Regions from separate parts of the Homo sapiens genome. Here regions 1 and 2 are each linked to region 3. Evidence: fine-mapped expression QTL. A gene starts in region 3. Each other region holds a variant in brackets. All regions are shown on one strand. Distances are from middle to middle.

Region 1 (9,972 bases), 27 kb before region 3:
GAAGATATGGAAAAGTTTGTAGCTTCCTAGAGAATTGTTGAATGCTTTTGAGCAAAATGCTGATAAGGATGTGTACAATGAAGTCCAGGCTGAGGTGGTCTCAGATGGAGTTGAAGAGCTTATTGGGAACTGGAGTAAAGGTCACTCATGCTATGCTTTTTAGCCAAGAGACTGGGTGACATTTTGCCCCTGCCCTAGAGATCTGTGGAACTTTGAACTGGAGAGAGATGATTTAGGGTAACTGGCAAAAGAAATTTCTAAGCAGCAAAGCATTCAAGACATGACCCAGATTATTCTGAAAGCATTCAGTTTTATGCATTCACAAAGAGATGATTTGAAATTGGAACTTACATTTAAAAGAGAAGCAGAGCATAAAAGTTTAGAAAATTTGCAAGCCTGATGATGCAACAGAAAAAAAAAATTTCTGGGGAGAAATTCAAGCCCACTGCAGAAATTTGCATAAGTAATGAGGGGCTGAATGTTAATCACTATTTAACTCCCCAGCCATGTAGAACTGTGAGTCATTTCCATCAATGAGGAAAATGTCTCCAGGGCATGTCAGAGATCTTGTTGGCAACATCTCCCACCACAGGCCCAGAGGCCTAGGAGAAAAAAATGGTTTCATGGGCCCCAGTCATGTCTAAAAGGGGCCAAGGTAAGCTTGGGGCATTAGTTCAGAAGGTGCAAGCCTCAAGCCTTGGCAGCTTCCTTGTGGTGTTGGGCTTGCAGGTGCACAGAAGTCAAGAACTGAGGTTTGGGAACCTCTGCCTAGATTTCAGAAGATGTATGGAAGTGCTTGGATGTCCAGGCAAAAGTCTGCTGCAGGGGCAAAGCCCTCATGGAGAACCTCTGCTAGGGCAATGTGGAAGGGATATGTGGGGTTGGAGCCTCCACACAGAGTCCCCACTGGGGCACTGCCTGGTGGAGATGTAAGAAGAGGGCCACTGTCCTCCAGACCCCAGAATGGTAGGTCCCCTGACAGCTTGCACCATGTGCCTGGGAAAGACACAGGCACTGAATGCCAGCCTGTGAAAAATCCTGCCCCTTGCATCAGCATGCCCTGGATGTGGGACATATAGCCAAAGGAGATCATTTTAGAGCTTTAAGATTTAATGACTGCCCCAATGGATTTCAGACTTGCATGGGGCCTGTAGCACCTTTTTTTTTGGGCAGTTTTTCCCATTTAGAATGGGAATATTTACCTAATGCTTGTACCCTCATTGTATCTAGGAAATAACTAGCTTGCTTTTGATTTTACAGGCTCATAGGCAGAAGGGACTTGCCTTGTCTCAGATGAGATTTTAGACCGTGGACTTTTGAGTCAATGCTGGAATGAGTTAAGACTTTGGCATGATTGTGTTTTGAAATGTGAAAGGGACATGAGATTTGGGATGGGTCAGGGGTGGAATGATTTGGTTAGGCTTTGTGTCCCCACCCAAATCTGATCTTGAATTGTAATCCCCAGGTGTTGAGGGTGAGACCTGGTGGGAGGTGATTGGATCGTGAATCAGCATGTTGCCTCCATGCTGTTCTCATGATAGTTGGGGAGTTCTCATGAGATCTGATGGTTTTATAAAAGTCAGTTTCCCTGGGCTTTTTGCTTGCTCTCTCTTGCATGTTGCCATGTAAGATGTGCCTGCTTCCCCTTCTGCTGTGATTGTAAGTTTCCTGAGGCCTCCCTAGTCATGCAGAACAGTCAGTCAATTAAACCTTTTTGCTTTATAAATTACTCAGCCTTGGGTAGTATCTTCATAGCAGTGTGAAAACGGACGAATATACCTTTCAACAGAAGGTAATGGAGCAATTAGAATTTCATAGGCAAAAAAAGAAATGTTAATCTAAACCTCACAACTTATAGAAAATTAACTGAAATGGATTATGGACTTAATTACAAAATGAAAAATTATATAACTTTAAGGGAAAAAATGTGAGAAAATGTTCAGGATCTAGAGCTAGGCAAAGAATTCTTAGACTTAATACTAAAAGCATGATCCATAAGAGGAAAAATGGATAAATTGCACCTCATAAAAATAAAAATGTTTGGCTGGGCACTATGGCTCACACCTCTAATCCCAGCACTTTGGTAGGCTAAGTCAGTAGGATCACTTGAATCCAGGGGTTCAAGACTAGCCTGGGCAACACAGTGGGACTCCATCTCTACAAACCATAAAAAAAATTAACCAGGTATGGTGGTACATGCCTGTAGTCCCAGCTACTCAGGAGGTTAAGGTGGGAGGATCACTTGAGCCTGGGAGGTCAAGGCTGCAGTGGACCATGATTGCGCCACTGCACTCCAGCTTGGGCAACAGAGGCAGCTTGGGCAGCAGAGGCGGTGGCTCACATCTGTAGTCCCAGCACTTTGGGAGGCTGAGGCAGGTGGATCATGAGCTCAGGAGATTGAGACCATCCTGGCTAACACAGTGAAACCCTGTCTCTACTAAAAATACAAAAAAATTAGCCAGGCGTGGTAGCAGGCGTCTGTAGTCCCAGCTACTTGGGAGGCTGAGGAAAGAGAATGGTGTGAACCTGGGAGGTGGAGGTTGCAGTGAGCCGAGATTGCGCTACTGCACTCCAGCCTGGGTGACAGAGCGAGACTCCATCTCAAAAAAAAAAAAAAAAGGAAATGTTTGCTTTGCAGAACACTCTGTTAAGAGGTTAAAAAGTAAAGTTAGAAGTGGGAGAGGCCAGGCACAGTGGCTCATGCCTGTAATCCCAGCACTACGGGAGGCCGAGGTGGGCAGATCATGAGGTCAGGAGTTTGGGACCAGCCTGGGCAACATGGTGAAACCCCATCTCTACTAAAAATATAAAAATTAGCTGGGCATGGTAGTGCATGCCTGTAATCCCAGCTACCTGGGAGGTTGAGGCAGGAGAATCACTTGAACCTGGGAGGCAGATGTTGCAGTGAGCTGAGATTGCGCCACTGCACCCCAGCCTGGGTGACAGAGTGAGACTCCACCTCAAAAAAAAAAAAAGAAAGAAAATAAATAGCCCTCATCAAAGACTCAAGTTATCTTTTTATAGTTGGTTTCTAGCTCAGTTGTATTGCGTACAGAAAACATGCTCTAAGATTTCAATCTGTTGAAGAGTGTGGGTGTTTCTGGCTGTATAGGATCTGATAGGTACTCCTTGTGTGCTTGAAAACAAAGCGTATTTTCAGTCATTCAAATATTCAATATTATTCTGATCGTTTTCTCAGTCTCTTCTATCAATTACTGAAGCACTATTTCAAAATATCCCACTCTAGGCTGGAAGGAAATAGAAATGAATTAAGATTGAGATTGGCAAATACACACACACACACACACATACACACACACACACACACACACACACACACACACAGCTGTTTTGTGTATTTCTCATCATAATTCCATCATACTTTACTGTATATAGTTTGTGGCCATGTTATTAAGGGCATACAAATTTAGAATTTTTGCAACGTCTTAATAAATACTGAATCTTTTCACATTAGCAAATTCCCATCTCATATGTAAAGGTTTTGTTTTCTTTGTTTTGAGATGGTCTCGCTGTGTTGCCCAGGCTGGAGTGCCGTGGCTATTCACAGGCTGTATCGTGGTACATTACAGCCTTGAACTCCTAGCCCCAAGCCATCTTCCAGTTTCAGCCTTCCAAGTAGTAAAGATTTTGTTTTAAAATTCATTATTTATTTATTTATTTATTTTTCTTCCCTTAAGGTGCTATTGGTAGGCCAAGCATAGTGGCTTATGCCTGTAATCCCAGAACTTTGGAAGGCTGAGGTGGGTGAATCACTTGAGGTCAGGAGTTTGAGGCCAGCCTGGCCAACATGGTGAAACCCCTCTCTACTAAAACTACAAAATTTAGCTGGGTGTAGTGCCGGGCGCCTGTAGTCCCAGCTACTTGGGAGGCTAAGGCAGGAGAATGGCTTGAACCCGGGAGGCAGAAGTTGCAGTGAGCCGAGATCGCACCACTGCACTGCAGCCTGAGGACAGAGCAAGACTCTGTCTCAAAAAAAAAAAAAAAGAAAAAAAGAAAAAAGTGCTATTGACCTGACGTCAGTATAGATATATGACAGCTTTTCTTCAGTTTGTTCCTATGTGGCCTATCTTTTTTAATCCTTTTATTTTCAACCTTCCTATAGTCTTATGCTATAAATGTGCTCCTTGTAAATAGAATATAATTTGATTTTCTTTTGTTTTTCATTCTGACTTCTTCTTTTTTTTTTTTTTTTTTGAGGCAGGGTCTTGCTCTGTCCTCCAGTCTGGAGTGCAGTGGTGTGATCATGGCTCACTGCAGCCTCAACCTCCTGGACACAAGCAATCCTCTTGGCTCAGCCTCCTAAGTAGCTGGGACTACAGGCATGCACCGCCACATCTGGCTAATTTTTTAATTTTTAATTTTGTAGAGACGGAGTCTCCTTATGTTGCCCAGGCCAGTCTCGAACTCCTGGGCTCAAGGAATCCTCCTACCTTGGCCTCCCAAAGTGCTGGGATTACAGGCGTGAGCTACCTTGCCCAGCCCCCA[ATTT/A]TTTTTTTTTTTTTTTTTTTTTGAGACGGAGTCTTGCTTTGTCTACTAGGCTGGAGTGCAGTGGCACAATCTCGGCTCACCACAACCTCCATCTCCCAGGTTCAAGCGATTCTCCTGCCTTAGCCTCCCGATCAGCTGGGACTACAGGCGTGTGCCGCCATGCCTGGCTACTTTTGTATTTTTAGTAGAGATGGAGTTTCACCATGCTGGCCAGGGTGGTCTTGAGCTCCTGACCTTAGGTGATCCACCCGCCTCGACCTCCCAAAGGGCTGGGATTACAGGCATGAGCCACCACGCCCGGCCAAATTTTTTTAAAAATACAAAATAAATTGTTCTGTTGTGAACAATGCTGCAATAAACATGGGAGCTCGGTTTCTGAGCGTGCTTGTAAAGGTCTTCTGGTGGACGCATACGCTCTTTCCTTTGAGCTTTGTATTAGTTTCCTTCAGAGAAACGGAACCAATGGGATGTGTGTGGAGAGAAAGAGAGAGGGAGAGGCAGAGACAGAGAGGGAGAGGCAGAGACAGAGAGAGGGAGAGGCAGAGACAGAGAAAGGCTCCAAGGAATTGGCTTATGTGCTTGGTGGAGGCTGGGTATGTTCAAAAAAGTCCAATTCTGCAGGATAGGTTGGCAGGCTGGAGACCCCAGGAAGAGGTGATGCCGTGGCTCGAGGCTGAAGGCCGTCTCTGGCAGAATTCCTTCCTCTTCAGGGAACCTCAGTTGTCTCTCTTAAGGCCTTCAGCTGATTAGATGAGGCCCACCCCCATTATGGAGGGTCATCTGCTTCACTCAAAATCTACTGATCTAATTGTCAATCTCATCTAAAAAATGCCTTCACAGAAACATCTAGAATAATGTTTGACCAGATACTTGGGTGTTGGGGCCTGACCAATTTAACCCATAAAATCACCTATCACTAGTATATACCTTGGAAGTTTTACAGCTGATACAGTTTTTCAGTGTGGCTGAACAGTTTAACAATCCCTCCCATCTGCAGTGCATGGAAGTTCCAGTTGCTCTCCCTCCTGTTGACAGTTGGAATTGTTGTTGTTTTTTGTTTTGTTTTGTTTTGTTTTGTTTTGAGACGGAGCCTCATTCTGTTGCCCAGGCTGGAGTGCAGTGGTGCGATCTCAGCTCACTGCAACCTCCACCTCCTGGGTTCAAGCAATTCTCTGCCTCAGCCTCCTGAGTAGCTGGGACTACAGGTGCCCACCACCACGCCCGGCTAATTTTTGTATTTTTAGTAGAGACGGGGTTTCATCATCTTGGCCAGGGTGGTCTTGAACACCTGACCTCGTGATCCACCCGTCTCAGCCTCCCAAAGTGCTGGGATTACAGGCGTGAGCCACCACGCCTGGCCCAACAGTTGGAATTGTTAGTGCCCTGCGTGCAGTGATATTTCACTGTGGCTTTAATTTACATTTCTGGCCGGGCATGGTGGCTCATGCCTGTAATCCCAGCACTTTGGAAGGCTGAGGCAGGCAGATCACCTGAGGTCAGGAGTTGGAGACCAGCCTGGCCAACATGGTGAAACCGCGTCCTTACTAAAAATACACAAATTAGCCGAGCATAGTGGCACATGTCTGTAATCCCAGCTACCCGGGAGGCTGAGGCAGGAGAATCACTTGAATCTGGGAGGTGGAGGTTGCAGTAAGCAGAGATCACACCACTGCACTCTGGCCTGGGCGACAGAGTGAAACTCCATCTTGAAAAAAAAAATTGCATTTCCTAATGACACTGAACATGTTTTTACCTTTTTATATGCTTAAGGGGTGTATAATAATGGCACACAAATCGTCTTAAGGCTATTTGTTTTAAATATTAGGGACTAGACTATGAAATATGGACACAGATAGGCTAGTAATTTATTGTCCCTTTGAAGTCTTTTTTTTTTTTTTTTTTTTTTTTGGTAGAGATGGGGTCTTGCCATGTTGCCCAAGCTGGTCTCGAACTCCTGGGCTCAAGTGATCCACCTGCCTTGGCCTCCCAAAGTGCTGGGATTACAGGCGTGAACCACCACAACTGGCCCCTTTCAAAGTCTTTTTTTTTTTTTTTTTTGAGAGGGGTCTCACTCTGTCACCCAGGCTGGAGAGCAGTGGTGCGATCTCGGCTCACTGCAACCTCTGCCTCCTGGGTTCAAGTGATTCTCCTGCCTCAGCCTCCCGAGTAGCTGAGACTACAGGTGTGTGCCACCACACCCGGCTCTTTTTTGTGTGTTTTTAGTAGAGACAGCGTTTCACCATGTTGGCCAGGCTGGTCTCAAACTCCTGACCGCAAATGATCTGCCCGCCTTGGCCTCCCAAAATGCTGGGATTATAGGCATGAGCCACTGCGCCCAGCCCAAAGTCTTTACATATTTGCCCAACATGTATTTAGTTTGGCTGTTTCTTTATTTTAAAAAGCCGCTTTTTATTTAAAGAAAAACAAAAGATTGTTTTCAGAAATAAATTCACCTTCCGGGGCTAAAAAAATCCTAACCATTTCCTACTTCTCTTTGGTTCTTGTTCTCACTTCAGGTTGTATATTAATCAGATACAAGTCCCACTGAGGTTACAAAGTCCCCCAACCGCAGCAGCTGAAACAAGCTAGAAGTATGTTTTCACTCTGCAACAAGTCCGGTGTCCTCTGCACGAAGCAATGGGCACTCCGTGGTGTTAGGGACCCAGGCTCCCCCTGCTCTCTCTGCCATGCCAAGGATGCCATCCCTGTCACGTCCATGTTCCAGCCCCGCGGGATCAGGGGTTCTCTGAACAACACCTTTTGAAGAGGCATCTTCTAGGTTTGCAATGTAGATGATAAAATAAGTCACTTGTTGGCAACACGCAGCATACCCCATGCAGCACCGGGTTTCTGACTTGCAACTGGCGTGACTTCTAGTGAATGTGCCGCCCAGAAACACTCGACGGAGACTACACTGCTATCACTAAGTTGTTTTTTCTCCTTCTTGAGTACTTCAGTGGGGTGGGGCCAATTTATATTTAACCAGTTATTTCAGGAATCAAGGAGGGCGGGGAGGCACACTGACTGCTGTATTACTGGTTCATTCTGGGAAGCCTGGGCCCAGCTCCAGCTTGCTGAGGCCACGCTACGGGGTCCACAGCGTCGACTGTCCCTGACTCTAACCAGCGTCTCCCAGAGCCTGCAAATGTGCCACACACAGCAGCAGGGGCGGGGCTCACTCCTCATTCTCACTCTTCGACTTGTATTGGGCTGATTTTGATTGAAAGCAGCAGAAACCCAATCAAAGGCGAATTTGCTGACTCAGTTAACTGGAAGATAACGGATGCTTCTGCTTTACGCACGTTGGATCCAGGAGCTCCATCAAATTCTTCATCATTTCTCACTCTTCCTCCCCATGAAACATTGTTTTTCTCCCTCTGTCTCTCTTTTTTTTTTTTTTTTTGAGACAGAGTCTTGCTCTGTCGTCCAGGCTGGAGTGCAGTGGTGCGATCTCGGCTCACTGAAACCTCCGCCTCCCGGGTTCGAGCAATTCTCGTGCCTCAGCCTCCCGAGTGGCTGGGACTACAGGTGCCCGGCTAATTTTTGAATTTTTAGTGGAGACGGGGTTTCACCGCGTTGGCCAGGCTGGTGTCGAACTTCTGACCTCAAGTGGTCTGTCCGCCTCAGCCTCCCAAAATGTTGGGATTACAGGTATGAGCCACTGCACCCAGCCAGCATTCTTTTTCTCTACACTGCTTACTTCTCTGTGGCTTCATTCTCAGGCAGCCTGTACCTGCAGGGTGGCAAATATGGCCAAGTCACTTTAAGGCTTTCTTTGATGAGTTCTGGGGTTGCCTTTCATTGGCGTGGCTCACTGGGTCCTGCCCCTCCCTGAATAATCACTTTGGCTAGGAGAATGCAGTTCCTATCCCCTTGGCAGAAGTGGTCACTTTCAGTTCAATCACATGGATTTGGTTCCTCCAAGAAAGAGAGGTTCTGTTACCAAAGGAAGAGGCAAAGGATGCTTAGCTGACGAAGACCTCAGGTGCCCTCTGTGCCTTCTTTGCTGTGCCCAGATGATGCCTTTGGCCAGCTTTTTCCTGTACTGCTCATTATAAAAACAATATGTAATGAAGTGGAGAAAACTTATTTCTCAAAAATTCCTGGACAGGCACTGTGGCTCACGCCTATAATTTCAGTGCCTTGGGAAGCTGAGGTGGGAGGCCAGGAGTTTGAGACGAGCCTGGGCAACACACTGAGATCCCATCTCCATTTAAAATATGTATATTAAAAAAACAAATCCTAAGGGAAGACTGGAGATAGGCTGGTGGGTGATTTGGACAGAGAGGGGCCATCTCTATGCCCAGGGCCTGGATGTCCCATGAACAGCTTTTCCTGGGGTCAGGCAGGCAGGGGTGGAGGGCACCAGCAGGAGGAGATGGAGGACTGGGCTATGCCAGGTGCCGCCTCCTGTCCATGCCCCACCCTGATTCTCCATCACGGGCCGATTCCCTGCAATGCCCAGGAGGACTGGAGTGAGAAAGTGGGCTCTCCATGATGGAGACTGAGGAGGGGAGAAAGCTACAGGCTTGGTTTGCTCTGTTGCAGAGGAGGGAAGTGGCCTTGAGCTGCCTAGGCCTGGGAATTGGGGTTCAGACTGAGCTCTAAGTAAATCTGCAATGGGCAGGAGGCCTAAGGGATCATATGTTTTCTGAAAATCAAAGATGCAGGCCGGGCGCGGTGGCTGACGCCTGTAATTCCAGCACTTTGGGAGGCTGAGGTGGGCGGATCACGAGGTCAGGAGATCGAGACCATCCTGGCTAACATGGTGAAACCCCGTCTCTACTAAAAATACAAAACATTAGCCAGCCATGGTGATGGGCGCCTGTAGTCCCCGCTACTCAGGAGGCTGAGGCAGGAGAATGGTGTGAACCTGGGAGGCAGAGCTTGCAGTGAGCCGAGATCATGCCACTGCACTCCAGCCTGGGCGACAGAGTAAGACTCTGTCTCAAAAAAAAAAAAAAAAAAGAAAAAAGAGAAAAAGAAAATCAAAGATAAACTGGGGTGTTTTCCAATACCAGCAACCACTTCTCTGACTCTCCAGATACCAGCTTAGTGTTTGAGAAAAGAAAAATCCCTCAGAGCAGTCTGACCTACGTGAGGTGCACGAATGAATCAGGCCGGGAGAGACATGGATGTGGACTTCAGTTGCATACCCCCTGCCTGGAGGTAATCATATAAAGGCATTTTGACTGACTAGCTGCCTCACCCATTATCTTCATGCTCCTGGAATTTGTGATACAAAGCACAATGTATAGCCAATCAATAGCTTATGTTATTTTACTGAGATAGGGTCTCACTATGTTGCCCAGGCTGGCCTCAAACTCCTGTGATCCTCAAGTGATCCTCCCACCTCAGCCTCCCAAGTAGCTTGCAATAACTCCTATTATTTTAATGTCAATTCCTGGTAAAGGGGCTGGGTATGGTGGCTCATGCCTGTAATCCCAGCACTTTGGGAGGCCG
Region 2 (9,972 bases), 27 kb after region 3:
GTTGTGTCATCCTGGGCAGGCCACTCAGCAATGCTGATACCCTGCTTCTGAAAACAGGGCTCATCATTCCTGAGGCTGGAGTTTTGGAGGATTAAGGAGGTAACACATGGCAAGTGCTTGGCCCAGAGCCTGGCACTGAATGAACAGAGGATCCTTCCCTCACTCTCCGTTTTCCATCCCCCCTCATGCCCAGCATCTCCTGTCCCCAGCATCCCCAACCTGCATCTCCCTCAGCCTGTATTCCTTTGACCCAGTTAGAGACAGATGAGGAAGGAATCCACCCGCTGGGCTGGCTCTGACCTGCCCCCCTTCTTCTGCCCCAAAGGGAGGGATCCGAGGACTCAGGTCTGAGCCCGGATTAGCTGTGTAATCCCCAGCTTTGCCTAGGCAACCTCTTTCCCTGACCAAGAGAGGGGGCCTGCGGCTGGCAGCCAGGACTCCTGGGCTCTGGGCCTGATACTACTCTATCTGTCTGGGAAACCTCAGACAGGGAAGAGATTTCTTGGTGCCTCTCTTGGGAATGTCACTGACGTCCACAGTGACTGTCACATGCGTGTCAGTTGTTCTGTGGGTTTGCTGTGTGCGGGGCACTGTGGAAAGGAAGAAAGGCCTAGATTCCAGTCCAGCTCCACCACTCAGCAGCTTCATGCCCACAGACAAAGGACAAAATCCCCCTGAGCCTCAGTTTTTTCGTGGACAAAATGGAGTGAACACCTTGTGGGGCTGCTGTGGGGTATGTGAGAAAATAGCTGCAAAGGAGTTTTGTAAACAGCACGTTTTAGAGAGATCAGGAAGGATGATTACAGCACAAAAGAACAGAGATGGTTCCTCACCATGAGGACTGGAAAAGAGCTGGGGAGAGCAGGCCAAAAAGGTCACTCTTATCACGAGGACCACAGCAGAGGGTTCCAGGAAACTGAAAAAGACGAGTTCATCAGGCTTCCAAGACCTCCTGGGAAGGCAAAGGACAGAGGGACCTCCTCAGGTCAGGGGAAAACCGAGGGAGGGGGACAGCCACACAAACGCCCTAAAGTCTAATGACGGCAGAAAGGGGTCTTGGGGGACGGGGGTGGGGTTCACAGCAGTGGCCTGGGCGTGATGACCCTGGCGAAGGACGGGGTCGCAGAGCCCTTAAATCCTGGACCAGTGGCTGATTCCAAAAGCAGCAGGGACCATGCCAGGATTTTGGGCAGAAGCAGAAAGTGCTGGACTCTCCTGACAAGAGCTGAGAGAACTCAGCGGCGCCAGCAAGAGTTTGTGCCGTGCACTGACCATCTGCATCCTCTCTGCCTCACCCCAGCCTAGGATTCCGTGACAGGCCCTCTGGGAAGAACTCCGCGAACAACCCCCTGCCTTGGAGTCTGCAATCCTTCCTCGAGCACACGGACGCCCGGGGTGGGGAAGCCCACAGTCTGGCAGGGCTCGCACTGGGCAGAATAATTGCAACGTAGTCATGAGGATCGGGCTATGACCTGCCTGACTTTTCACTCCTCCCATGATACACCGATGCATACCGCAGGTGCACACTAAACGCCGAATCTATAGAAAGTGGAACACACCAGGACCCAGCAGAAGGCGACATGCGAGGTTTGTTTACTTGTGGCATCAAAGGCTGGGAGCCGGCGAGCTAAGGAGGGAGCGAAAGAGCGAGCGGTGGGGACAGCCACCGCTAAATGCCAGCCCGGTGGAGGGAGGAAGGCGGACCCCAGGCCGGTGGGACCACATCTCCCAGAAGCCCCGGCGCCAAGGCACTGGCCTCTCAGTCCTCCCCCGAGGAGGCGGGGCCGCTGGCGAAGTTGAAGGGGCGCAGCGATACCGGTGCGCGGCGCTGGCGTCGGGCGCGTGACGTCTTTCCTGCGCGCCACCTAGCGTCTCTATCGCGCCAGTTCCTCAGCCTCAGTGCTATGAAGGTGACAGCGTGAGGTGACCCATCTGGCCCGCCGCGATGCTGGCAACACGGCGGCTGCTCGGCTGGTCGCTTCCCGCGCGGGTATCTGTGCGTTTCAGCGGCGACACGGTGAGGCCCAGCCTGGCTGGGGCCACGGGTGTTTGGGGCCGGGTGTCGCGGCCGCGCCCGTGCACGAGCAGTCCCTGGGGTCTGTAGTGGCCTCTGGAGAGCCCTTCTCCCCAGGCCAGGCGGGAAGGCCCCCGCTCCGGCCTGGTTGAAGTAGGGGAACGGGTCCCAACGCGGGGCCGACTCCCTTGACCCTCTGACTTGCTGGCTTCCCTTGTTTTACAGTCCTCGGCCTGGCGGAAGTTTTGCAGGTTGTGAAGACCCCTAGTCTTTCATTCTCTCCTTGTCACAGCCTTGTAGGGCGTGAAGGGGTCATTGCCCCATTTAGGGATGCGCACCTCCTGATTTCCCGTCCACTGCTCTGCGCCCTGAAGTGGCTGAAAAGTGCTCTTAAAAGGATGGGAATCCCGTCGCCCTCAGCTGGTGCGCTCTCCACTGGGTCGTGGGGCTCCTCATTTCATCCTAAGTGAGCCCCTCCATCACCTGTGTGTTAAGGAGGCATTTCTTTCCCATCAGTAAACACATTTCGCCTCTTCGGCCGAGGTAGGAATATAAAAGGCCCCTGGCCTACCCAAGTTTTGGTCCAGCAGGGGAGCCAGGCCGGGAAAGGGCCAAGCTGCCACACTCGGCTTGTGGGGCTGTGTGGTGCCGTGATGCAGCTGTGGGTTTGGCCACCGACAGACCTGGGCTCAAATTGGACCTGCTGCTTTTGACTGTGAGACCTTCCATAAGCTCCTTTTGCTCCAAGCCTCAGTTTTCTCCTCTGTGAAACAGAGAAAATCGTTCCTATCAGAGTTCTTATGAGGATGAAATGGGATTTTGGATGTAAAATGCTTCCATCCAGTACCTGCTAAACAAAATGCTTACTAATGGCCGGGCGCGGTGGCTCACGCCTGTAATCCCAGCACTTTGGGAGGCTGAGGCGGGCGGATCGCTTGAGGTCAGGAGTTCGAGACCAGCCTGGCCAATATGGTGAAACCCTGTCTCTACTAAAAGTGCAAAAATTACCCGGGCGTGGTGGTGAGTGCCTGTAATCCCAGCTATCCAGAGGCTGAGGCACAAGAATTATTTGAACCTGGGAGGTGGAGTTTGCAGTGAGCTGAGATTACGCCACTGCACTCCAGCCTAGGCAAAAGAGCAAGAGTCTGTCTCAAAAAAAAAAAAATGCTTACTAAGTGGCAGTGGTATCTATGATGCTATAGATGCTTCCCTAGCCCTAGCCCAGCCCCTCCTAAATAGGGAGACCCAAGATTCTGTAGCTTCTGGCCCAATCCCTCATGGCCCCAGAGCACTCTGGGCCTCCTGACCCTTTGTCTCCCTAGACAGCACCCAAGAAAACCTCATTTGGCTCGCTGAAGGATGAAGACCGGATTTTCACCAACCTGTACGGCCGCCATGACTGGAGGTGAGACAGTGCCCTTAGTGTGTTGGGTCCCGGAGCAAGGTGTCCCCTTCATTGCCTTCCCTATTCTGTCCAGGCTGAAAGGTTCCCTGAGTCGAGGTGACTGGTACAAGACAAAGGAGATCCTGCTGAAGGGGCCCGACTGGATCCTGGGCGAGATCAAGACATCGGGTTTGAGGGGCCGTGGAGGCGCTGGCTTCCCCACTGGCCTCAAGTGGAGCTTCATGAATAAGCCCTCAGATGGCAGGTGTGTGTGTGGGGGCGGGGCAGATGTGGCTGTGGGAGAGACCTTGGGGGTGGCTGGGGTTTCCCTGGGCCTTTGGGCTCTTTCCTTAGAAACTTAGCATGAATGAGGTGGGCACATGTTCCCAGGCCTTAAATGGATGGGACTTACTCTGTGGACTTCCACAGGGGAGACTTATGTAGCAGAATCAACACATGATTTTGACTCAGGCAGACTTAGTTCAAATCCTAGCTCTGCCTCCTAATCATAGAGGTTTGGGCAATTTCCCAGCCTTTGTGAACCTTAGCTTCCTTTTTGTAAATAGGTAC[A/G]GTGATATCATGCAAGGATTAAAGAGATAATGTTCATACAGCTTTTGGCCTGTATGCTGGTTGGCACATAAAGCAAATGATAAATGTCACCTGCTTTACCTCCTTTTGATGGTAGAGCTTGAGGAATGCTCTTTGTCACCAAGAGTAGAATCTGGCTCTCAGGGGCAGACACAAGGAGAGATGTTTGGATGAGCTGAATGAAGACCTTTCTTGTGGTCATAGCCACCCAAAGACAGAATAGGCAGTGAGCTCCCTGTCATTGGTGGTGAGCAAGCAGAGCCCCTGGGACATGTTGGGAGGGCAGTAAAGGATTGGCTGTCAGAGGAGACATCTTTGAGGCCTCCCTGGGTGGAGTGGGGTGGCATGGAGTTGAAGACCCAGTCCTGATGGCCCTGTAGCCTGTCTGACCTGTGGGCCCCTGCAGGCCCAAGTATCTGGTGGTGAACGCAGACGAGGGGGAGCCGGGCACCTGCAAGGACCGGGAGATCTTACGCCATGATCCTCACAAGCTGCTGGAAGGCTGCCTGGTGGGGGGCCGGGCCATGGGCGCCCGCGCTGCCTATATCTACATCCGAGGGGAATTCTACAATGAGGCCTCCAATCTGCAGGTGGGTAGGGAGAGATGTAGACAGATGAGAAGGTGTTCAGTGTGCACTCACACACCCCTCACCCAGCACAGTTGTTCTGAGGTGTTAGTACCTGGTCTGTCAGTGGTTGAACTGGGGGAGTGGTGGCCAGTCCTGCATGCATCCCAAATGGGACTTGGCTCCCAAAGCCTCCTTCCAGGGCTCCTAATGCTGCTGGTGTAAATTTTTTTTTTTTGCTTCAAAAATATAGTATTTTTTATAAAACAAGTAGCAAGAAGAAAAAACCTAAGTGGAACTATGTGTTTAGCAAGAGAGCGGAATAATTATGAATATAAACAATTCCTATTTGGAGAAAATACATTATGTTCATTGCTTGGAACTATGAATAATACTTATATCTGTAGGAAATATAGAAAAATAAAATAGGTTAAGGCAATAAGGATATAGGCAATTACATTTTTATTTTAATTTTATAAGGACTTTTATTTTTCCTTTACAGACTAGGGTAGTTAGGAGACCTGATAGTAGCTACTTCGTTTTTATTTTCCTGGCAGCAAAGCAGCTTACTTATGTGTTCCTTCTTGCTTATCTGTTCCAGATCATAGTCAAGTTTTCCAATTCGTTTTACTAAGCTAGCAAAATTTTTTATACCAGGAGCATTAGGAGCTTCACCGTGGGAGGCCTTCAAGGGCTTCATGACTCCTGAAGTTATAGGCTGACTCCTGGGCTGGGGGTGGGCTGGGAAACTCACACCTTTGTCCTGCAGGTGGCCATCCGAGAGGCCTATGAGGCAGGTCTGATTGGCAAGAATGCTTGTGGCTCTGGCTATGATTTTGACGTGTTTGTGGTGCGCGGGGCTGGGGCCTACATCTGTGGAGAGGAGACAGCGCTCATCGAGTCCATTGAGGGCAAGCAGGGCAAGCCCCGCCTGAAGCCCCCCTTCCCCGCAGACGTGGGTAAGGCCTGGCGTAACCCTGGGTCAGACTGTGTCCTGTGACACCCGGGATCTGGCTAGGCTCCCTTTGGATTGTTCTTAGGGATTTCTGAGTGGCTTCCCGGCTGGGGCCAGATAGAGAGTAGGCTGGCAACAACACACAGGCTCCCCCAGGGCCGCCTGCTGTCCCTCCTCCTGCCTCGGTCCCCTCCGCACCAGTGCTGCTCTGTGGCTCCACCTTCACAGTGCCTGTTCTGAGGCTAAGGGCATGGGGTGAACAAGGCAATGGGCATCTCTGGAGTTTGGGGTCCAGCAGGGATAAGAATGATAAGGGGATATTAGAGCAGGGGCTCTGCCATGGGTGCAGGACCCTGGGACACACCTCCCTGCCAGGAAACTTGCCCCACCCCCTAGCAGCCACCAGTTCTCTTCCCATTTCCCTGAAGGAGTGTTTGGCTGCCCCACAACTGTGGCCAACGTGGAGACAGTGGCAGTGTCCCCCACAATCTGCCGCCGTGGAGGTACCTGGTTTGCTGGCTTTGGCAGAGAACGCAACTCAGGCACCAAACTATTCAACATCTCTGGCCATGTCAACCACCCTTGCACTGTGGAGGAGGAGATGTCTGTGCCCTTGAAAGAACTGATTGAGAAGCATGCTGGTAAGGCCTGGGGCCAGCCAGGTGGTGGGGGGGTGCGCAGTGGGGGCAGGTGTCCACAAAGAGAGCCTGGGCGGGAGGGCTCAGGAGACGGGGCTGGGTCTAGGGGCTGACTAAGGGCCTGGGCTCAGGACTAGGCAGGTGTGCCGGCCCCAGCCCTGACCATGCATCCCTTTGGGGACCGACTTGGGGCCCCAGGGGGTGTCACGGGCGGCTGGGACAACCTCCTTGCTGTGATCCCTGGCGGCTCGTCTACCCCACTGATCCCCAAGTCTGTGTGTGAGACGGTGCTGATGGACTTCGATGCGCTGGTGCAGGCACAGACAGGCCTGGGCACAGCTGCGGTGATCGTCATGGACCGCTCGGTAAGGGTTCACACACCAGCCCTGGTCCCTGCCCTCCTGGTTGCTGTCTCCCTCCCTGGGCCTCCCAGAAAACCCTCTTGCCAGCACTCAGGTCTCAGTTCCTGCAGCCTGAGATAAAGCAAGGTGGAAGAGGAGGGAGGAAGGCTGCTCTGAGGAGAATACCCCGGAGTCTGGGCAGCACAGGGGGCCCAGGGAGGCTGGAGGAGGCCAGAACGCTGGGTGGGCTGGGAAGAGCTTCTGGAACTGGGGGAGGGGCTGCTGCTAGGGGGCTGAGGCCCAGGCTTCTGTCTGGCCGTGGGTGCCTGCTAATTGCCCCTCGTCACCCAGACGGACATCGTGAAAGCCATCGCCCGCCTCATTGAGTTCTATAAGCACGAGAGCTGTGGCCAGTGTACCCCATGCCGTGAGGGTGAGCATCGGGCAGGTTGGGGGCTTGCTTGCTGTGGCTTCATTTAACCTCCTCCCCACCACGTGGCCTGCAGCCCTCAAGCGCCGCCCCACATCCTGGCTGGGGAGATCATCAGGCCCTCTCTTGTGGCTGTGGCTGCAGGTGTGGACTGGATGAACAAGGTGATGGCACGTTTCGTGAGGGGGGATGCCCGGCCGGCCGAGATCGACTCCCTGTGGGAGATCAGCAAGCAGATAGAAGGCCATACGATTTGTGCTCTGGGTGACGGGGCCGCCTGGCCTGTGCAGGTATTCACCACCCTTCTGCGTAGCACGGAGGGTGGGTGGCATCAAGGGCCCAGGGTGTTGGGGGATTTTTGGACTCTGTTTCACATGGTCCCCCCACCGACCCCAGGGTCTGATCCGCCACTTTCGGCCGGAGCTCGAGGAGCGGATGCAGCGGTTTGCCCAGCAGCATCAGGCCCGGCAGGCTGCCTCTTAGCCCACCACCCTGGCCTGCTGTCCTGCGTCTATCCATGTGGAATGCTGGACAATAAAGCGAGTGCTGCCCACCCTCCAGCTGCCGCTGCTGTGACTGTGCTCTTTACCCTTTACCCAGCACACGATCCTCAAGGGTGGGAGGGGAGAACAGGGTCCAGTCTGGCCCATGGCCAGAGAAAGGACAGGGTCTCATCTGGCTTGAAGGAGATGTTTATTTCGGCTCCATGATTTGGGGTGGGGTGAATGTGAAAGCGGGGAGAGAGGAAACACCTCTCTGACTTGGGGCTGGGCATGAGGGTAAGGCAGCCCCAGCCGCCATCATTTTTGTGGGGACGTTTCAGGCAGCTGTAGTGGAGGGGCGGCAGGCAGGGCCCATGGGCTAGTCGCTGAGCTGGACAGGCTTGCTGTCCAGCGGGTGCCACAGCTTCAGGCGGTGGTCACTGTGGCCCAGGCACTCAAGCCAGTGCCGCAGGCGCTCCCCACTGGCATGGCTGCCCAGCTGCACCCCGCCTGCCATGGGGGATGGGTCAGGAACCGCCAGGAGCCTACTGGGCCCCCACCCCAGCTCCTCATGTTCCCACTCACCAATGAAGTCATCAGCCGTGCCTAGGTCATAGTCCCACACAGACACCAGCAGCGTCTTCTGGGCCAGCTCCTCCCGTGGGCCTGAGTAAAAGAATTCCTGCAGGGAGAAGGGCAGAGAGGCGGGAAGGAGGCAGCCTCGGCTCTCCCACAGCTTAAGAAGCAGGCCACGGTAGGGTAGTGGCTCAGCATGTCAAGGCCAGGGTTGGCTGGGACCTGCCTGGCCCTGGCTCACCTCATTGAACTCGGGGTTCAGGGTCTTCCTGTGAACACTGGTTTTGAATTTAGATTTCTTCCCTGCATTTGGATGCAGGAAACTGATCGGGGAAGATTGGCGGGTTAGGTGTGGCCCTGGAGAGGTGAGGAGTCACCGCCTTATCCTCACCTCCCGCCTGCCTACCCCAGTTCACTCACAGGCGCACGAAGGGGTCCGAGTAACCATTGGCATCCATGGGGGCCAGGTGGGCGCAGCGCAGCACACCTACCAGCAAGCCACCCTGCTGAGAGCTGTAGCACAGTGACAGTAGGACGTGCCCACATTCCTCCCAGGCCACCTCTGTCTCCACCTCCTCCTGCAGGTGTAGGCTGAGGTCAGCCCCAATCCAGTCCAAAGCCCACCCCCTTTAGCCTCCGTGCTCTGGGCAGGAAAGCTCAACCTGGCCCCAAAGAAATCGGGGGCAACGACTTCATTTCCAATACAGCCACTTGCCCAGTGCCATGGAAGTGGCCCTATGGGTCAGCTGTACCCTCCAGGGCCTGACCAAAGGCGAGGCTTGCTGACCACATGACCAGTCAGATACGTCTGTCATGGAGGGGAAGCGAACTGGCTGACATGCCAGTAGCTCCCTAAGTGGCCTCCCATCCAGTGTGTGTAGCCACCCCTGTAGGCAAGCGGCTCTGAGAGGATGTTCACTTCCCAAGGAGAAGCAGATCTCTTCAAAACCCCACCCTCTTCACCCCCTATTTCCCTGGGGACCAGATGCTGAGTGTCGTTTGTCACACTCTGGGCCCTGGTGCTTCTGAACAGGCTCAGGGAGGAAGCCCGGGGAGGATGCACTGCTCTCACCCGCAGGGTAGGTTTCCATTTGCGGAAAGCCCCACCACCTTGCTCACAGGCGGTTCTCAGGAATGCGGAAGTGCTCTGTGGGCACCCACCATGCTCCGGGCGCTGTTGTGCTTGGGATCTGGGGCGGAGGGTACACGGGGCTGGCGCTGGGTGAAGTGGCCTGTCCATGCCACCTTGGTGGGCTTCAGCCACTTGGGCTTAGCTAATCGACAGCTGCAGCAACTTGTGGCTCCACCAGGGGGCGGGGCACCCGGCACTTTGGGGAGGAGCTGGTAGAGGGCCCCGCTCTCAGCCTCCCAGCTGCCTCCCCCACCGACCACAGGGGTTCTAACTAGGTCTTTGGTCTCTAGTGGCGTCAAACCCCTGCCAGTCACCCTCACTGCCTCCGGACAAGGGCCTGTCTAGGACAGCCTGCCCCAGGAGTGGCCCCCACACTCCCCTCAGGCCAGACCCCAGCCAGGGAGCCCCACCCATCTGTCCTCTCTTCCACCTCGCCCAGCCTCCCATCTCGGGCCGTGGACAAATGCCGCCAGTTTCAGCCTCTGCCTCAAGGCAGGTCTCTGCCCAGCTGCGCCCCCAGGGACTCTGCTTGTCCCAGTGCCCCACAGCTCCTCTGGGCTGCCCTGGCAAGGGAGTCACCCTCACTTTGTCACCTGGCTGTCCCCTGTGACAATGAGGGCTCACAGGGCCTATGAGAGCTGGCCTCAGGTTCCTCCAAGTCCCCTACGCCCCTGCCACCAGGCCTGCCCCCTCATCTCTGCTCAGCCCAGTTGTCCTACCCACCTCATAGAGGGACATGCCACAGGCTGTGTCCAGGCTCTTGGGCCTCTTGGCCTGAAAGGGCAGAGAGCCCGGTCATCCTGGCCAGATGCTGCCCAGATCCCCCTCCCTGTTCCTCCCCTCCAGCTCCCCCCATCACAGGTTCC
Region 3 (9,972 bases):
AAGATGAACTGGGCTTCCAGTTACTCTGGGGGGTTTAGGGAGGATGACTCTGAGTGCTAAGCCACTAAATGCAGCCCCAGTTAGTCAGGTTTGGCTGGGACACCACAAATGATGTGGGCAAAGGCCTGGAGCACTGGCCATCCAGCCCCCACGCCGGTAGCTGTCTCTGGAAAAGTGTTGGACTGAAGCCCAAGCCTGCTTCCGTGCCCTGCTGAGCTGGGCAGTCAACCCCGGCTTAGCTTTTGCTGCCCTGACGGAGCCCCAGCCCTTGGTCAGGCTGCACATGGCAGCTTGGTGGGCACAGGGTAGCCGTGGATCAAGACCAAGAAAGGGACAGAGGCCAAGGGCTTTCCCAGCTTCAGTCCACCTGCTCGGGACAACTGGTGCTCCAAGCACCAAGTAGAGCTCCCAGCCCTGAGATGAGCGTCCTCAACTCCTTTCAGGGAAGCATGAACCCATGCCTGTGGCCCACCCATCCCTGCGCCTGGGCTCAGTGAGGCCACTGGGGCACCTTCACCTTGGATAAGAGTTCAGAACTTTGAAGATTAAGCTGGACCAGATCTGCTCATCCTCACAGTACATTTCAGGAGCATCTCAATGGCTCCCACCCTGGCCTGGAACCCTCCTGTGCTGCCGAGATATCAGGGAGGCGCTGGGTACTGCAAGGGGAAGATGGCATTGCTATGGAGCCACTCTTGGTGAAGGTCGAATGGGTGACATTGGAAGTCTAGCTTTTCCTGAGGCTGGGGTCTGGACCTTGGTCTAGATCAGGGGTCAGCAAATTTTTCTTGAAAATGTAGACAGAAAATATCTTAAGCTGGCCGGGCACGGTGGCTCACACCTGTAATCCCAGCACTTTGGGAGGCTGAGGCAGGCGGATCACAAGGTCAGGAGATCGAGACCATCCTGGCTAACACAGTGAAACCCCGTCTCTACTAAAAATACAAAAAATTAGCCGGGTGTGGTGGCGGGCGCCTGTAGTCCCAGCTACTCTGGAGGCTGAGGAAGGAGAATGGCGTGAACCCGGGAGGTGGAGCTTGCAGTGAGCCAAGATCGTGCCACTGCACTCCAGCCTGGGCGACAGAGCCAGACTCCATCTCAAAAAAAAAAAAAGAAAAAAGAAAATATCTTAAGCTTTGAGGACCACATAGTCTCTGTTGCAATCACTCATTTGGGCCACTGTAGCACAAAAACAAACATAGATAACACACACATGAGTGAGCATGGCTGGGGCCCAATAAAACTTTATTTACACAAGCAGGTGATGAACCACGGTCCATAGTGTCCCAATCCTTGATTTAGATGGTGAACTATCATGAGCTTTCGTTGCCCTCTCCGGTAGAAATATGGGAGAAACCACAGAGAGAAACAGAGATTTCAGGAAAACAGTAAAATTAAACAAATAAAGTGAGACGTCGCCCCTCCTGGAGGCTGCAGGCTGTGTTGAACCTGTGTGTGTCTGGGTGTACAGGGATGTGAGTAGATGCGCGTGGAGATGTGTGTGTGGGTGGAGACTGAGCGTGGCTGGAGGTGGCTGTGGTAGGATGCCAGAAGGAAGGAGTTTGCATTCAGTTCCTTTATTAGTACTCTCTGGAGTTGTTGAGGGGATGTCACTGCTGAACACTGACCCTGGTGCAGGCTAAACCGAAGTTAGCCTCTGCTACCCTCTGCTGGGTGAGGCACTGGGGAGAACAGTGGGACTGAATGGGGCGGGCTTTCTCCCTCCCACACTTCCCCTGGAAACACCCAGCACCAGCACATTAGAACATGGGGAGCCACCTTCCCCAGCGCTGCTTCCCAAGGTTCGGAAGGGGAAACTCTGACCTCAAGCTCTGTTTGAAGAGCGATAGCAAAGGGGAGAGGTTGGCTGTGGTTTGGTGGTGCTTATCTCCTTCCTTTGCTTTGAAACCACAGGCTGGCATACTACCCGAGAGAATGACCAGTGCCACCAAGGGAAGGGCACAAGCTCACTGGTTCCAGGGGAGACATCTCAGGGGACAGGAACATCCCCTGACGCTGAATGAGTGCAGCACACAGACGGAGAATACACACAAGAGAAATCATGAGGACATGAGAGAAGGCACTGGCAATAGGAAGTTACAAAAAGCAACAAAAAGAAAGAGTAGATATAAAAACAATAATCGAAGAAAGCCAACAACAGATGGGATGAATCATACGAGGTATGCGACTCATGGATGAAGAGGTGAGTGATGAGATCAGCTGGGGAACTCTCTCCCAGGAAAGACAAACCAGAAGAAACACAAATGACATCGAAGTGGCCAGGCGCAGTGGCTCACGCCTGTAATCCCAGCACTTTGGGAGCCCGAGGCAGGTGGATCACTTGAGGTCAGGAGTTTGAGACCAGCCTGGCCAACATGATGAAACCCTGTCTCTACTAAAAATACAAAAATTAGCCAGGTGTGGTGGCAGGCACCTGTGATCCCAGCTACTCAGGAGGCTGAGGCAGGAGAATCACTTGAACCAGGAAGCAGAGATTGCAGTGAGCTGAGATGGTGCCAGTGCACTCCAGCCTGGGCAGTAGAGTGACAGCCTGTCTAAAAAAAAAAAAAGGCAGTAAAGTGATAGGAGGATAGATTAGAAGGGCCATTTTCCAGATAGTGCAAGGAAGAAAGAAGAAGAAGAAGAGGAGGAGGAGGAGGAAGAGGAAGAAGACGGAGAAGAGGGCATCTCAGAAGAAACAATGGAGATACATTTCTCAAAACTGAAGAAAGATGACCAACCTCAGACCGAAGGGCCAAGAGGCCAAACCAGAGAGACAGCTTGGCAAGCCAGGAAGAGCACCAAAGCTAGACAATTAGAGTGAAATTAAAGAAAACCCAAGGTGACAAAAATTTAAAAAGCTTCCTTGTGACCTCAGTCCATTGGTGAAAATTTAAAAAAAAAAAAAAAAAAAAAAGGACAGCCTGGGCAACATGGTGAAACCCCATCTCTACAAAAAATACAAAAATTAGCTGGGTGTGGTGGCACATGCCTGTAGTCCCAGCTATTCGAGAGGCTAAGTAAGGCAGGAGGATCACTTGGGGCCAAGAGTTCCAGACCAGCTGCGGCAACATACATGTTGTGGGAAGTCAGGCACCCCGAACGGAGGGACTGGCTGAAGCCATGGCAGAAGAACATAAATTGTGAAGATTTCATGGACATTTATCACTTCCCCAATCAATACTCTTGTGATTTCCTATGCCTGTCTTTAATCTCTTAATCCTGTCATCTTCGTAAACTGAGGATGTATGTCGCCTTAGGACCCTGTGATGACTGCGTTAACTGCACAAATTGTTTGTAGAGGACAATTGTTGTGTGTTTGAGCAATGTGAAATCTGGGCATCTTAAGAACAGGATAACAGCAATTTTCAGGGAACAAGGGAGATAACCTTAAAGTCTGGCTGCCTGTGGGCTGGGCAGGACAGAGCCATACTTCTCTTATTACCGCAAACAGGTAAGAGAAATATCGCTGAATTCTTTCCCCAGTAAGGAATATTAATAATTAACAGCCCTGAGAAAAGAATGCATTCCCAGGGCCGGGCCACTGAAATGGCCTCCCTGAGAGTGCCTGCCTTTATTCAGAAGTAGAAAGGGATGAAACACGCCCTAGTCTCCTGCAGCACCCCCAGACTTGATAGGATTAGGAAATTCCAGCCTGGCAAATTCTAGTCAGACCGGTTCTCTGCTCTTGAACCCTGACAGTGCGTGCACAGTGGGACCTGGAAGTTCATTAGTGATTCTAGTTTCGCCGTGACCTTCTGCCCTGTGATCTTTTGTCGCCCTTGAAGTATGTGATCTCTGTGACCCACACCCTGTTCGTGCACTCCCTCCTCTTTGAAAATTGCTAATAAAAACTCGCTGGTTTTACGGCTCAGGGGGCATCACGGAACCTGCGGACATGTGATGTCTCCCCTGGACACCCGGCTTTAAAATGTCTCTCTTTTGTACTCTTTCCCTTTATTTCTCAGGCCAGCCGACACTTAGGGAAAATAGGAAAGGACCCACGTGAAATATTGGGGGCTGAATTTCCCCCGATAATAAGTCTCTTAAAAAAGACTTTTAAATGAAATTTCTTTGTTTTTTAACTTTTATTTCTGTTTTGGGGGTACATGTGAAGGTTTGTTACATAAGTAAACTCGTGTCTTCGGTGTTTGTTGTACAGAATATTTCATCACCCAGGTATTATGCCGAGTACCCAATAGTTCTCTTTTCTGCTCCTCTCCTTCCTCCCATCCTGCACCCTGGAGTCAACCACAGTGTCTGTTGTTTCCTTGTTTGTGTTATAAGTTCTCATCATTTAGCTCCCACTTACAAGTGAGAACATCCAGTATTTGGATTTCTGTTCCTGCATTAGTTTGCTAAGGATAATAGCCTCTAGCTCCATCCATGTTCCCACAAAAGACATGATCTAGTTCTTTTTAATGGCTGCATTAAATGAAGTTTTAAAGATACAACATAAACACCAACCTCTTCCCCACCACAAAAATCCCTTGCTGAATTTGATTACACTTAAATTAACGAGTTTTGTTTCATGAAAGACTCCTTGGACAAACTTGACAGTTGATGGAATAGGAGAAGCTGTCTGTCATGTCTAAAGCCAACAAGAGATCAATATCTAGAATAAATGGAGATCTGCAAATCAACAGAAAGTAGGCAGCAAAGCCAAAGAAAATAGCCTAAGGCACAGCCACTAAAAGGAACGTGATCATGTCCTTTGCAGGGACATGGGTGGAGCTGGAAGCCGTTAGCCTCAGCAAACTCACACAGGAACAGAAAACCAGCGAGACCGCATGGTCTCACTTATAAGTGGGAGCTGAACAATGAGAACACATGGTCACATGGCGGCGATCAACACACACTGGTGCCTGTTGAGCGGGGTGCTGGGGAGGGAGAGTACCAGGAAGAATAGCTAAGGGATACTGGGCTTAATACCTGGGTGATGGGATGATCTGTACAGCAAACCATCATGGCGCACACACCTATGTAACAAACCTGCACATCCTCTACATGTACCCCAGAACTTCAAATAAAAGTTGGACGGCCAGGCGTGGTGGCTCACGCCTGTAATCCCAGCACTTTGGGAAGCCGAGGCGTGCAGATCACCTAAGGTCAGGAGTTCGAGACCAGCCCGGCCAACATGGTGAAACCCCGTCTCTACTAAAAATACAAAAATCAGCCAGATGTGGCACGCACCTATAATTCCACCTACTCGGGAGGCTGAAGCAGAATTGCTTGAACCCGAGAGGCGGAGGTTGCAGTGAGCCGCCGAGATCGCGCCACTGCACTCCAGCCTGGGCCACAGCGTGAGACTACGTCATAAAATAAAATAAAATAACACAAAATAAAATAAAATAAAATAAAATAAAATAAAATAAAATAAAATAAAATAAAATAAAAAAATAAAATAAAATAAAATAAAATAAAGCAATTTCCTTTCCTCTAAGCGGCCTCCACCCCTCTCCCCTGCCCTGTGAAGCGGGTGTGCAAGCTCCGGGATCGCAGCGGTCTTAGGGAATTTCCCCCCGCGATGTCCCGGCGCGCCAGTTCGCTGCGCACACTTCGCTGCGGTCCTCTTCCTGCTGTCTGTTTACTCCCTAGGCCCCGCTGGGGACCTGGGAAAGAGGGAAAGGCTTCCCCGGCCAGCTGCGCGGCGACTCCGGGGACTCCAGGGCGCCCCTCTGCGGCCGACGCCCGGGGTGCAGCGGCCGCCGGGGCTGGGGCCGGCGGGAGTCCGCGGGACCCTCCAGAAGAGCGGCCGGCGCCGTGACTCAGCACTGGGGCGGAGCGGGGCGGGACCACCCTTATAAGGCTCGGAGGCCGCGAGGCCTTCGCTGGAGTTTCGCCGCCGCAGTCTTCGCCACCAGTGAGTACGCGCGGCCCGCGTCCCCGGGGATGGGGCTCAGAGCTCCCAGCATGGGGCCAACCCGCAGCATCAGGCCCGGGCTCCCGGCAGGGCTCCTCGCCCACCTCGAGACCCGGGACGGGGGCCTAGGGGACCCAGGACGTCCCCAGTGCCGTTAGCGGCTTTCAGGGGGCCCGGAGCGCCTCGGGGAGGGATGGGACCCCGGGGGCGGGGAGGGGGGGCAGACTGCGCTCACCGCGCCTTGGCATCCTCCCCCGGGCTCCAGCAAACTTTTCTTTGTTCGCTGCAGTGCCGCCCTACACCGTGGTCTATTTCCCAGTTCGAGGTAGGAGCATGTGTCTGGCAGGGAAGGGAGGCAGGGGCTGGGGCTGCAGCCCACAGCCCCTCGCCCACCCGGAGAGATCCGAACCCCCTTATCCCTCCGTCGTGTGGCTTTTACCCCGGGCCTCCTTCCTGTTCCCCGCCTCTCCCGCCATGCCTGCTCCCCGCCCCAGTGTTGTGTGAAATCTTCGGAGGAACCTGTTTCCCTGTTCCCTCCCTGCACTCCTGACCCCTCCCCGGGTTGCTGCGAGGCGGAGTCGGCCCGGTCCCCACATCTCGTACTTCTCCCTCCCCGCAGGCCGCTGCGCGGCCCTGCGCATGCTGCTGGCAGATCAGGGCCAGAGCTGGAAGGAGGAGGTGGTGACCGTGGAGACGTGGCAGGAGGGCTCACTCAAAGCCTCCTGCGTAAGTGACCATGCCCGGGCAAGGGGAGGGGGTGCTGGGCCTTAGGGGGCTGTGACTAGGATCGGGGGACGCCCAAGCTCAGTGCCCCTCCCTGAGCCATGCCTCCCCCAACAGCTATACGGGCAGCTCCCCAAGTTCCAGGACGGAGACCTCACCCTGTACCAGTCCAATACCATCCTGCGTCACCTGGGCCGCACCCTTGGTGAGTCTTGAACCTCCAAGTCCAGGGCAGGCATGGGCAAGCCTCTGCCCCCGGAGCCCTTTTGTTTAAATCAGCTGCCCCGCAGCCCTCTGGAGTGGAGGAAACTGAGACCCACTGAGGTTACGTAGTTTGCCCAAGGTCAAGCCTGGGTGCCTGCAATCCTTGCCCTGTGCCAGGCTGCCTCCCAGGTGTCAGGTGAGCTCTGAGCACCTGCTGTGTGGCAGTCTCTCATCCTTCCACGCACATCCTCTTCCCCTCCTCCCAGGCTGGGGCTCACAGACAGCCCCCTGGTTGGCCCATCCCCAGTGACTGTGTGTTGATCAGGCGCCCAGTCACGCGGCCTGCTCCCCTCCACCCAACCCCAGGGCTCTATGGGAAGGACCAGCAGGAGGCAGCCCTGGTGGACATGGTGAATGACGGCGTGGAGGACCTCCGCTGCAAATACATCTCCCTCATCTACACCAACTATGTGAGCATCTGCACCAGGGTTGGGCACTGGGGGCTGAACAAAGAAAGGGGCTTCTTGTGCCCTCACCCCCCTTACCCCTCAGGTGGCTTGGGCTGACCCCTTCTTGGGTCAGGGTGCAGGGGCTGGGTCAGCTCTGGGCCAGGGGCCCAGGGGCCTGGGACAAGACACAACCTGCACCCTTATTGCCTGGGACATCAACCAGCCAAGTAACGGGTCATGGGGGCGAGTGCAAGGACAGAGACCTCCAGCAACTGGTGGTTTCTGATCTCCTGGGGTGGCGAGGGCTTCCTGGAGTAGCCAGAGGTGGAGGAGGATTTGTCGCCAGTTTCTGGATGGAGGTGCTGGCACTTTTAGCTGAGGAAAATATGCAGACACAGAGCACATTTGGGGACCTGGGACCAGTTCAGCAGAGGCAGCGTGTGTGCGCGTGCGTGTGCATGTGTGTGCGTGTGTGTGTGTACGCTTGCATTTGTGTCGGGTGGGTAAGGAGATAGAGATGGGCGGGCAGTAGGCCCAGGTCCCGAAGGCCTTGAACCCACTGGTTTGGAGTCTCCTAAGGGCAATGGGGGCCATTGAGAAGTCTGAACAGGGCTGTGTCTGAATGTGAGGTCTAGAAGGATCCTCCAGAGAAGCCAGCTCTAAAGCTTTTGCAATCATCTGGTGAGAGAACCCAGCAAGGATGGACAGGCAGAATGGAATAGAGATGAGTTGGCAGCTGAAGTGGACAGGATTTGGTACTAGCCTGGTTGTGGGGAGCAAGCAGAGGAGAATCTGGGACTCTGGTGTCTGGCCTGGGGCAGACGGGGGTGTCTCAGGGGCTGGGAGGGATGAGAGTAGGATGATACATGGTGGTGTCTGGCAGGAGGCGGGCAAGGATGACTATGTGAAGGCACTGCCCGGGCAACTGAAGCCTTTTGAGACCCTGCTGTCCCAGAACCAGGGAGGCAAGACCTTCATTGTGGGAGACCAGGTGAGCATCTGGCCCCATGCTGTTCCTTCCTCGCCACCCTCTGCTTCCAGATGGACACAGGTGTGAGCCATTTGTTTAGCAAAGCAGAGCAGACCTAGGGGATGGGCTTAGGCCCTCTGCCCCCAATTCCTCCAGCCTGCTCCCGCTGGCTGAGTCCCTGGCCCCCCTGCCCTGCAGATCTCCTTCGCTGACTACAACCTGCTGGACTTGCTGCTGATCCATGAGGTCCTAGCCCCTGGCTGCCTGGATGCGTTCCCCCTGCTCTCAGCATATGTGGGGCGCCTCAGTGCCCGGCCCAAGCTCAAGGCCTTCCTGGCCTCCCCTGAGTACGTGAACCTCCCCATCAATGGCAACGGGAAACAGTGAGGGTTGGGGGGACTCTGAGCGGGAGGCAGAGTTTGCCTTCCTTTCTCCAGGACCAATAAAATTTCTAAGAGAGCTACTATGAGCACTGTGTTTCCTGGGACGGGGCTTAGGGGTTCTCAGCCTCGAGGTCGGTGGGAGGGCAGAGCAGAGGACTAGAAAACAGCTCCTCCAGCACAGTCAGTGGCTTCCTGGAGCCCTCAGCCTGGCTGTGTTTACTGAACCTCACAAACTAGAAGAGGAAGAAAAAAAAAGAGAGAGAGAAACAAAGAGAAATAACCATGGTCACTGTCCTGGAGCACCACACAGTGTATATAGAAGGAGAAAAGTCTCATAGAAACATGCTTTCTAGGCACAGCACGTGCCTGTCAGATGGACAGACTCCAGGATGGAGGGAAATGAGGGATTCTGGGAAGGAGGGATGTGAGGAGTTCCCTGTCCTGGGGGATTAGCTGAGTAGCTCTGAGCAGCCCAGGTTGGTGGGAGGGTCATTCTGCTTGGATGGGGGCTTTCCTGGCTTCCTGCTGACTTGTGAGTTTTGGTGCATCCTAGGCAAGCAATGACACTACTGTATTAGGATTCTCCAGAGAAGCTAAGCCAGTAAGATGCTGTAGGGCAGGCAAAATTTTATCTCTGTCCTTTTAGGGTTTTTTGGCTGGGCCTGAGAACTAAAGACATGAGCAAGAGAAAAGCATTCAAATTTATCTAGGCTGGGCATAGTGGCTCATGCCTGTAATCCCAGCACTTTGGGAGGCTGAGGCAGGTGAATCACTTGAGGTCAGGAGTTCAAGACCAGCCTGACCAACATGGTGAAACCCCGTCTCTACTAAAAATACAAAAATTAGCCAGGTGTGGTGGCGGTTACCTGTAGTCCCTGCTACTTGGGAGGCTGAGGCATGAGAATCGCTCTCTCTCTCCTGCCACCTTGTAAAGATGTGCCTGCTTCCCCTTCACCTTCCACCCTGATTGTAAGTTTCCTGAGGCTTCCCAGTCATGCTTCCTGTTAAGCCTGCAAAACTGTGAGTCAATTAAACCTCTTTTCTTCATAAATTACTCAGTCTCTGATAGGTCTTTGTAGCAGTGTGAGAATGGACTAATACACTGTTTTTGTTTTGTTTTGTTTTGTTTTGTTTTTGAGATGGAGTCTCACTCTGGTGCCTAGGCTGGAGTATAGTGGTGTAATCTCTGCTCACTGTAACCTCTGCCTCTCAGACTCAAGCAATTCTCCTGCCTCAGCCTCCTGAGTAGCTGGGATTACAGGTGCCCACCACCGCGCCTGGCTAATTTTTGTATTTTTAGTAGAGATGGGCTTTCATCATGTTGGCCAGGCTGGTTTCGGACTTTTAACCTCACGTGATCCACTCGCCTTGGGCTCCCAA

What was found. PIP is the estimated chance that this variant, and not a neighbour inherited with it, causes the effect.
Region 1: its variant is the best candidate, but not a certain one, in a credible set for the expression of GSTP1 in fetal neocortex (Walker 2019, PIP 0.88).
Region 2: its variant is the best candidate, but not a certain one, in a credible set for the expression of GSTP1 in whole blood (TOPMed, PIP 0.66).

What each region holds. Positions count from the first base shown.
Region 1 is chr11:67,551,157-67,561,128 of GRCh38, forward strand. No RefSeq gene overlaps it. Among named protein-coding and RNA genes, the nearest start is that of GSTP1, 28 kb to the right of the region's middle. The variant ATTT/A (reference allele first, on the strand shown) is at 4,507.
Region 2 is chr11:67,605,060-67,615,031 of GRCh38, forward strand. NDUFV1 (NADH:ubiquinone oxidoreductase core subunit V1) reads left to right here and starts at 1,877. Exons shown (of 10, transcript NM_007103.4): 1 at 1,877-2,017; 2 at 3,337-3,419; 3 at 3,493-3,663; 4 at 4,393-4,576; 5 at 5,322-5,511; 6 at 5,936-6,148; 7 at 6,344-6,510; 8 at 6,838-6,919; 9 at 7,061-7,206; 10 at 7,313-7,495. The coding sequence starts at 1,946. The coding sequence ends at 7,399. It overlaps NDUFV1-DT (NDUFV1 divergent transcript), which reads right to left and starts at 1,647. Exons shown (of 3, transcript NR_130935.1): 1 at 1,560-1,647; 2 at 834-952; 3 at 1-44. It also overlaps the pseudogene DOC2GP. RefSeq lists enhancers at 1,386-1,445, 1,826-1,955, 6,674-7,873, 7,843-8,358, 8,642-8,691 and 5 more. The variant A/G (reference allele first, on the strand shown) is at 3,969.
Region 3 is chr11:67,577,982-67,587,953 of GRCh38, forward strand. GSTP1 (glutathione S-transferase pi 1) reads left to right here and starts at 5,831. Exons shown (of 7, transcript NM_000852.4): 1 at 5,831-5,863; 2 at 6,153-6,188; 3 at 6,483-6,589; 4 at 6,704-6,791; 5 at 7,157-7,260; 6 at 8,123-8,230; 7 at 8,408-8,672. The coding sequence starts at 5,863. The coding sequence ends at 8,596. RefSeq lists enhancers at 1,392-1,491, 8,710-8,779 and silencers at 5,431-6,050, 5,601-5,743, 6,061-6,210.